2 linked regions of the Homo sapiens genome follow. The protein of the gene in region 2 purifies or fractionates together with the protein of the main gene of each other region. This does not show direct contact. Each region holds a gene or a part of one and is shown on either strand. Other genes may lie near its edges.

Region 1 (4,905 bases), on a different chromosome or scaffold from region 2:
GGAAGGGAGTTGTGTGCTAAGAAGAAAAGGAGTATAATTGTGTGTGTATACACACATGTATGCACTCTGCCTCACTCCAATTTTAGACAAGGTAATCACTCAAGGCCTCACTGAGAAAGGTGACATTTTAGTGATGATTTAGAGAAATACTTGGGAGTGTTTGGTGTGGCTGGTGTATAGTGGAGGAAGGGAAGAGTGATTGTAAGGTAAGGCTGGAGGGACAGGCAGAGGTTGGATCCTGAACGGCTCTACCTACCATAAAAAGGAGTTTGAATTTCAGTCTAAGTGCAATGTGAAGGAACTGAAAAAATTCAAGGAAGTAAGGATGGTATGTGACATTAAACAAAATCATTATAGCTCTTAAAGAAAGGATTGTAGGGAAGCTAGGATATGTAAATAGAGACCCATTAGGAAGCCATTACAGCAGTCCAAACAAGCAACAATAGCTACGAGGGCAAGGTCAATGGTAGTGCAGAAACTGGGCAGATCTGGGAAATGTTTTAGAAGTAGAGTCAATAGGGTTTGCTGATGCTCTGCATCCAGGCAGGACAGGTGTAGAGGAAAAGAGCTGAATCAAGGAAAACACCTAGACTGGACAACAGTTTACTGAGGGATAAGAATGATGCAGATTTTTTTTTAATAACTCAGAGTTTGGTTTTAGTCATATGAAGTTTAAGATGCCTACTGGATATCCAAGAGGAGATATCAAGTAAGAAGGTAGAAACGTGAGTGAGAGGATCTATGGAGAAGTCAGACAAAGAGATACAAACTTGGGAGTCATTAGCATGTAGTCAGTTTTTCTAGTCAATCAGTTGGAAGAGGTAACCAAAAATAATATGGAGATAGTGGAGTAGAGGAACTGAGCTTTGAAGCAGTTCAACATTTAGATCACAAGAGAGGAGAAGGAATGGGCAAGGAACAGGAAGGAACAGTCAATATGGTAGCAGGCAAACTAGGAGAGAGTCAGAGAAGCCAAAAGAAAAAGACGTTCCAGAAGGAAAGCAGATATAAGGACAGTGAAAGCATATGCCAGTGGCTCTAAAAGTGTGGTCTCCGGTTCAGCAGTATCAACATCACCTGGATATTTATTAGAAATATAAATTCTCAGGGTGCAACCCAGAATTATAGAGTCTGACGGTAAGGCCAAGCAATCCATGTTTTACCAAGCCCTCCAGGTAGTTTCAATGTTTGAAAATCACTGCATTCAAGGCTAATCCATTAACAACAGATAATAAGGCAAGATATTTCAGTGGAAGCCATCACACAGACCAGAGAGCTCTCCCTTGCTGTTTATATTATTTGTGGAAGCTTTCCACAGCACCCATATGTCATCTTGGGCAGGAGAAAGGGAAAAGGAAAATCCTTATGGGGGAAGACTGAATTTTGAAATAACCGAATTAATCTTGAAATTTCTGAGTACAAAGATACATAAAAGAGGTAAGTATTACATGGAAATTATCCTTGTTGTGGCAAGATTAAATGCTTTTCTCTACTGAGTTGAAAAGAGGAATGACTCATAATTAAACAGTAGTTTATAGAAAAATAGTTACATTTCTTAACTTTTAAAAACAAGTAAGAAATACCGGCAGGAGGACAGGAGTTTGTTTTGTTTTGTTTTGTTTGTTTTTTTGAGACAGGGTCTCACTCTGTTGCCCATGCTGGAGTGCAGTGGCGCGATCTCAGCTCACTGCAGCCTCTGCCTCTCTGGCTGAAGTGATTCTCCTGCCTCAGCCACCCCAAAGTAGCTGGGATTACAGGCTTGTGCCACCACACCCAGCTAATTTTTGTATTTTTAGTAGAGTCGGGGTTTTGCCATCTTGTCCAGGCTGGTCTTGAACTCCTGAGCTCAGGCGATCTGCCTGGGTTGGCCTTCCAAAGTGCTGGGATTACAGGCGTGAACCACTGCACCTGGCCAGAGACAGGAGTTTTGTGCTTTAAACAAAAAAGAGTATAAGCATATATCCATAAGAGTAGAAGATAGAATAATCAGATGATATATACAATGGATAAAGTTGTTTCCTGGTATATTTTGCTCTCCTTCCCCCCATTCTGATATTAGCTCTCTAAGGGAGAAGTCTGAATGGGAATTAGAGGTGGCAGAAGGTGCTACGTAGCATAAAAAAAGCTTCCCAGGGCATTCCAATATACTTCTCATTCCTTTCTTCAAGAAATAACATTTTAAAGAAATGCAATTTTATTATCTGTATAACGATAATGCAACCTTATATTTAACAATATATTACAACTTGTAAAGCTCTTTCTTACAAATATGATGGAGTTTGAGTGTCACCATAAACCCATGAATATATAGGATTTTTTATTCCTACCTTAGAGAGAAGAAAACCAAGGCTCCAAGAACTGAAGTTACCTATTCAAGGATCATGTAATTAGTAAATCAGAGTCAGCTTTCAGGTATGTTTCATGGTGCCAACAAAACAGAGGCCTGCCAGGATTTGGTCCAGTGCCTGGTACAGAGAAAAATGCTACTCAAAGGCAGCAAGTATGATAACTAACAACAATTAACTTTTCAAAAGATTATATTCGAATCAGATTTTAGCTGTTTAGAAGGGGGTTTTAAAAAGCCCTAATCTCCTTTAAGAAAAGAGTGAAGTTGGGTTAATAGAAGGCTTGTGTATAAAGGGCTTATGGCAGTCTCCAAAGATGGCTGTCAACAATCCCTTCTCTGCCTGTCTCTGCTTAAGAGTTCTATTTTAGCCTCCTTCACTGATTCTTCCTTCCTCTGTCCAAACCTTAGATGTTGCTACTTTCCAGGGTTCTGTCCTTGGCCCTTTTGTTTCTGAATCTGTTCTCTAATCTCATGGATTCATACTCTCAAATCTCTCCCATCCAGGTTTTTTGCCCAAGCTCAAGATATATTTAAAACTGCCTTTGAGACTAAGGGGTCCTACAGGCTTATTAAGTTCAATATGTCAAATACTGACTCCATTATCAGTCCCTCACTTGTGTATATTGTAGTTTACTTGACCTTAGTTAAGTAGATTTACAGATATTATCTCATTTTAATTAAGTCAATTCTCACATTTTAGAAAGGTTTTATTTAGAAAGTACTTATTGCAACTTGAGCCATGATCAAATGATAGTATGAAACCTTTCATCTCCCATTGTTTAAAAATACCGACTTCATACATACACACTGAAAACTGAGTATACAAAATAGAAAGTGTTTTGTTTTACCAGTGGGAGACAGACAAACAAAAAATTGTGGACACCACCGCTCCAACAGGAAACGCTGGTTAAGAAAGTTCATTACTGTCTGCACTCCACCTCTCAGGCTATGTAAAACAGCACTCCACTGACTGGGGAAAATCTTACATGTGTATAGATTTTTAAAAAATATATCACATATTTCTAAGAAAATGTTTCAAATGCAAATATCTTGGTAACAAATTTCCTTATTGTATTAATCAAGAACATAAAATCGTGGAGAAGATCAGATGTAGAATAATAGTATGTCTGGACTGCAAAGGCCAAGCCTAAAAACACATAAGGAGATTATGTACATTATTAGATAAGGAATGAGCCAATGTTACAAACTACAGAAAGCAAATTTGATATTTTTCTTGACATATGGTAGATCAACAGAAAAAAAGTGGCATAGATGGCCACTCTTGAGACATACTGGCAACTGAGGTAAACAATGAAAAAACTTAATATTCAAGTTGTAAACCACTGAAAGAAGGCCACTTTTTATTTACTACCAAATTTCTAGTCCAAGTTCACAAATCAAACGTGCTTTCTGAACCGTATTCTTTTCTGAATAATACAGTTTATTTGACACACTGTAATTAACAATTAGGTTTTTTGTTTTTTAAAATTTTTTATAGAGACAGGGTCTCACTATGTTGCCCAGACTCGTCTCAAACTCCTGGCCTCATACAATCTCCCACCTTGGCCTCCCAAAGTGTTGGGATTACAGGTGTGAGCCACCGTACCTAGCCCAACATTATTTTAAATGACTGTTTTTTCCCCAAAGATGAATTTTCATCAAGAGTAAAAAAGAGAACATATCAAGTTACAAGTATTTCCCCATCACACACATCCAACTAAAATGGTGACATACAAATAAATATTTCAGATATTCTTCATAATCCTTCATTTGTAAAAAACAGAGGAATGCAAAAAGGACTTTGGTTTTAAAAGGGAGGTCAATTTGGAAATATTTCCTTCTAAATTTATGAATGTTTTCTAAATCAAAATGTTTTTGATTAATTACTTTATGATAAGCATTTCTCCCCCTATGGTTGAAACCTCTTTGTTTTGGGTCTACAACTTTAGTCTCATACAATTAAGTAGATTTAAATTTAATTTCTTAATAAAAAATACAGAAGAATATGAGATGGTATATAGAACATTTCCATGCAACTACTATTGAAAGGCACAAAAACAAAAATCAGGTTTTGTGTGTTTGTGTGTTATTTTTAAAGAAATTCCTTTAAAAATTAATTTCTTTATGATGTAAGATGACTCCATTCCTTCAGACAAGTCATGTTAAAGAAAACAACCAAACACACACCTAACCTAAATGGAAAAGGATGTATGCCTTTGTGCTCTTAATTTATTATTAAATAATTCTTTTAATTGTTCTGAATTCATGTTATTTTTAGTTCAGTGACTACAGCTGTCAGTTTCATTTGGCCCTGTTCTATGAACTATCTGAATGGACCCCTGGTGATGCTGGCATTGTTCTGGCTGGAAATGCGGAACAAGACAGAACAAGCATAGATCATACATTTATTAGTTAGGACTTGGAGCCTCCAACTATGTTAGAACTTCAATATCTATTAATAAACTGTGGCAGAGTGGAACTGCCATCTGCTGACAAGATGGATTTGATAACATAAAAGTAAAGCTTTGATTATTCAAACTTTCTTCTGAATGTTTCAT
Region 2 (5,320 bases):
ATCATCCTGAGAAAGTAATGCTTGAAACTGTCTATTTAATTTGAAACAAGAAAAATTACGCTCAACCTAACAACTAAGTATAATGCAATCTAAACCATTAGAGAATGAATGCACGTTCATAATTCTGCTATTCTTTTGCAGAAACTGCTCAATATTTACTTTGCAGCTGATTTTCTATAAGAGAATGCTGTACTGAACCATTCACACTGTTTTACATAATGAAAAAATCTTTCTAAATTAGATAGTACTGAATGCAATTCATTTTGACTCCATGACTTTCTTGCCATATGGCCTTGAACAAATTATTGTACACACTTGATTTTTTTTTTGAGACAGAGTCCCGCTCTGTCACCAGGCTGGAGTGCAGTGGTGCAATCTCAGCTCACTGCAACCTCCACCTCCCAGGTTCAAGCGATTCTCCTGCCTCAGCCTCCCAAGTAGCTGGGACTGCAGGCATGCACCACCACACCCAGCTAATTTTTGTATTTTTAGTAGAGACGGGGTTTCACCATGTTGGCCAGGATGGTCTCGACCTCTTGACCTCATGATCCGCCTGCCTTAGCCTCTCAAAGTGCTGGGATTACAGGCATGAGCCACCGTGCCCAGCCACATGAATTTTATATTTGTTTGTTTCTTGATAAGATCATATATACCGTCTCTATACATTTATAAACATGTCTTTAAGTGCACTTCTTCCTTTTCTGTTCTGTTTGGCACCTTCCATACCTTCTTTCCTTCCCTTCATTTATATATCCACATCAGCCCCTATTCTATATCTATGCATGCATACACAAACACACACACTTAGGAATTTGTTTTACAAAAATGTGATCATATTATAAGTATTTTCTCCATCTTACTTTTTTCAATAGTATCTCATCAAAATCCTTCTAAGGCAACTAGTATAGCTCTAATGGACTTCTTTAATGGGCTACATATGACATGATATGGATGTATCATGATTCAATCAGCCATTCAGTCCCCCAGTGGCAGTCCTTTACTTCAAGATTACTGTTTGCTCATTTTTTTAAATTTAAAGCATTTAGAGACCATTTCAACAAAGTACTGACATCTGAGCTTATTCTCTCATCTATGGAATAAAAATAATATCACCTATTTTAACAGGCTATTCAAAGGACAAAATAAGATAAAGTATATAAAAGTCTCTGGCACAAAAGGGTAAATATAAAATGACACACTTTTTTTCTTTTTTCAAACACTATTAATAAATTATATATAGGACTAGCCATATTTGGTGGTTTTAAAGATATTTCTATAACTTATTTGTTGTGCTTCTCCTCAAGAGATAGAACTGAATTCTCCTCTCTCAGGACCAATGGATCTATCTAGTGACTAGCTTCTAGCAAAGAGAATAAAGCAGAAGCGATAATATCCCTTTTAAGATTAGATTACAAAAAACGATGACTTCCTTCTTGAATGCACTTGTGTGCATGCTCTCCCCGTCCCCCAATTAATTGCTCTAGAGAAAGCCAGCTATTTTTCATAACACTCAGGTAGCTTATGCAAAGACCCACATGATCAGGAAGTAAGAAGGCCTGCCAACAATCACATAAGTAAATTAGAAGTAGATCTTCTTAGGCCTACCAGTAGCCACATGAGGAACCCTGAAAACAAATACTTCCCCAGATGAGCCTTGAAATGAATGTAACCCAGCAGACAGCTGACTACATATCCTTATTAGAGATCCTGATCTAGAATCATACAGATAAGCCACTTGCAGTCTCCTCACTCACAGAAACTAAGACAATACAAGTTTGTGGTTATATGCCAATATGTTTTGGTAATTTGTTACATGGCAATAGTTAACTCATAGACCACATAAGGAATAGTTATAAAGAAATATTTGATTATAATAATTCCATTTTACCTTCTTCCCTTGAATTCAGTCAGACCAGATCCATAAAACAGAGGAATTCCTAAATAATCAAGTTGTTTGCGTTCTATCCACTTTTTGACTACAAAGACAAATTTATTTTTAAAAAGATTCATGTTATTTGAAAAGATACTTGTCACCTTTCTACAGACAAATTTATTTAGCTAACCAAAAAAGTAATTAGATCTTCCTAGAAGATAATTTTTTTTCAATCAAACATCTCTATCTAATGGCCTCAAACTGTTACCACTATAATTAACAAAAAATTAGAAATTTTTAAATTAAATCAATAAAAACAAGTCATAGGCTTTGTATATTGATACCATATATATTAATGTTTCAATCTATAAAAAGAATTCATTATCTTATATACTAGCTAAATTTCTAAATATAACATATGTTAACCACCAAAAGATCAGTAGAGAGATGGCTTTTTCTTCCCTATTACTTCAAGATTTAAAACCATAATGGACCAAAAAAAAAAAAAAAAGAAAAAAAAAGCAGAAATTGGGCAGAAAAACCATCTTACTTTGAAATTACTTTATACAAAAACTGGTTTTGATTAGTTTACAAAAAATCAAATCCACTTAAATAAAGTTAACTTTCATCATTTTTTTCATGACTCTAGCCTATGTTTTTTATGTTTAAGACAGCTCTACTGATAAACAATCAAGTTTAATGGATTCTATTTGTCACTGTGACATAGTTTAAGCAATTAGTAAAGATTACAGTCTTAATGTTTAGAAGACTTTATTAAGAAAAACTAAGTTAAATATTGAGGTCAGACCCATCACTCTTATTCTTAAACATGATGTAAAGGACCTTGACTATACAGTCATTACTCCTGTCTACTTCTTTAATGTTTTTCTTAGCCCATCTATATCACATTTATAAAATGCTGTTATTTTTCCTCTCTGCTTATATTCATTTCCCATTCAAGTCTTCTAACTGGTCATTCTTACACTTGGTATCCAGCTCCAATTAATTTTCCAGCATTCAAGTTTCTAACATTTTCTTAAACATCTTAAAGTTTAATCATTTTCACATTTCCACACACCTTGCCCCAATCCATTCTACAATCGTTCTTTTTTTATACATATATCTACTTCCCATTTTAATGTTTTTTCCTTATAGCCGTCCTATCCAAATGGTTTACTGTAAAAGAAATAATTTCATTCTACTATCTTTTACACTTAGGGAACTCTTGGTAGCTTAGATTAACAACCTAACATTTTATGTAAAGTAGTAGAAACAACTTTGACTTAAAATATATAACCCATTATGTATGTCATGTCAAGATTTGTATACCATCTGTCTTGCTTTTATATGTTGTAACAGTTAACTGTATCACTTTACAATAAAATTTCTATTGAAAAGAATTTTCCAGAAGGCCAGAAAAAGACCAAAATATCAACACTCACTTTAGCAAGCACATATATGGAAGTAGCTTGCTTTGCTAATTTTACTTACTACAGTCTTTTTTTGCAACTCTCTGATAAAATTTAAGTTCTGAAAATAACGGGCCATTTTCTTGATATTCCTATAAAAAAAAGAATAATTAATTTTACTAGAAAAAAATAATCCCAAAGATGGAATTGTTATTTCAACTGTGAAAATATGAACATATATATGTAGTATATAATAGTACTTGAATCACTTTTTATAAAACATAGGCACCAGATTTCCACTAAAAATCTCAGAAAACACTAAATAAACTTGAAGAATCTAATTTTTAAACGACATATTGTACCACTATCCCTATACAGTCTTACACATAAAAGTAGTTTTCTTACAGAGAACACTTACTAGAAGCACTGAGAACTGTATACATAAACATATACAACACTCACTGTATACCAACATATACATCCAGGTGATACACAGCAAACTCTCCTTGTGGTCCACTCACACATGATACCTTTACTGAATGGTCTACTATATTTCATTCATTATACTAGGTACAGGGGACACCAAAAAGAAATAAAACCCTATGCTTGCCTTTAAGGACCTTACCATCTTGATTAGAGAGGTGGAGAGGGTGGGAGGGCATTTGGGAGGGAAAGAGAAAGAATAGCTAGATAGATAACACACCAGGGTAATAGCTGGCAATACAGAAAAACAAAGGTTCTCCAGTTTTAATGTTTTAACAACGTCAAAACAGATGATAACATTAGGTTTACTGATAAGGCAATAGTTACAAAAATTAACGTGAAAAACATTCTTAAAGCAGAAAAGGAAAAAGTCAAATATATGTGAAATACAAATCTATGAGCAACACTTACCACTTTTACTACATGTCTTGCATCTTTCTCTGGTTTATTTGTGGGGAAAGCTGCAGACAAAAAAAACACACAATGGAGAAAAATAGTTATTCCCAATTACTGAATACCTACCATATCCCAAACACTATGCTAAGCATTTTACATATGTAAGTTTATTATGTCATCCCAACAACCTTTTATGGTAGTAGGAATCAATCATCTCCATTTTATACAAGATGCTACTGAAGTTTGAGACGTTGAATAAATTGCTCACTAAGAGGTAATATATTAGAGACAGAAACTCAAATCTGCCTGACATCACAGCCCATACACTTGATCATAAACCATATTTAAATATTTAAATACAGAATCAATAGACAATATGAATCATATAGATCCAAAATGTGGGGGGAAATATTTTATAGATATATGGCATTAAAGCCAATATATAATACACAGTAAAATCCATTGATTCAATTGCACTAAATTAGAACTCATAATGATTCAGAAATAAAAATCGATTCAATTTAAGTAGAAAGTTCAAAACAATTTATACTTGACAAAATTCTAGAACAAGCAAGGTTAAAATGAGAATAAAGTCTTTAAAAATTTCTTCTGAACCTGCTAATCAATTACTTTTACATTAAAGAATACATATCTCATAAATTCATTTCAAGTTACCTTACTTCATTTAATTCTTATTTTCCATTTGTTGTTCAGATGGTATAACCCTACTTTTAAAAACTCCAGTGTTCACATTTTAAAACAAATTAATCTTTTCCTCTACATTACCTAAATTATTAAAAGATTGTTTTCAAATCTCAATAAATTTACATGTATATTTATTTGTACTGCAAAAGACTAAAACTTCGTCATTTGTTCATTTGTTCACTCTCCATCCATTCATTCCTTTACTCATTTAAATAGCTAAAATATTTATCAAGAAGCTAGAATATGCCAGGCACTGTGTTAAGTGTCTGGATGATATCTGAAGGAAAGGGAAAGGAAAAAAGGTGGAACTAGTATTGACTACAATTGAAAATCAGTAAGAAACAGACTTGAGAACAGGATCAAATTCTTGAGATACAATATATTTTTATATATTCAATATATTTATTAAAATGCTGTGTCCTATTATTAACATTGTCCTTTTCTTTCTTCTAAT

Evidence for each region. Proteins that work in one complex are often made in the same cells at the same time.
Region 1: the proteins of VRK2 (region 2) and MAP3K7 purify together in Homo sapiens (pull-down; 2 studies listed by BioGRID and IntAct, with this or other methods). This does not show direct contact.

The regions. Positions count from the first base shown.
Region 1 is NC_000006.12:90,576,661-90,581,565, forward strand, and holds part of MAP3K7 (mitogen-activated protein kinase kinase kinase 7), read right to left. Parts: intron 1-4,905. UniProt on the Homo sapiens protein: Serine/threonine kinase which acts as an essential component of the MAP kinase signal transduction pathway. Plays an important role in the cascades of cellular responses evoked by changes in the environment.
Region 2 is NC_000002.12:58,082,995-58,088,314, reverse strand, and holds part of VRK2 (serine/threonine-protein kinase VRK2), read right to left. Parts: intron 4,227-5,320; coding exon 4,177-4,226; intron 3,435-4,176; coding exon 3,365-3,434; exon of another isoform or gene 3,316-3,364; intron 1,977-3,315; coding exon 1,889-1,976; intron 1-1,888. UniProt on the Homo sapiens protein: Serine/threonine kinase that regulates several signal transduction pathways.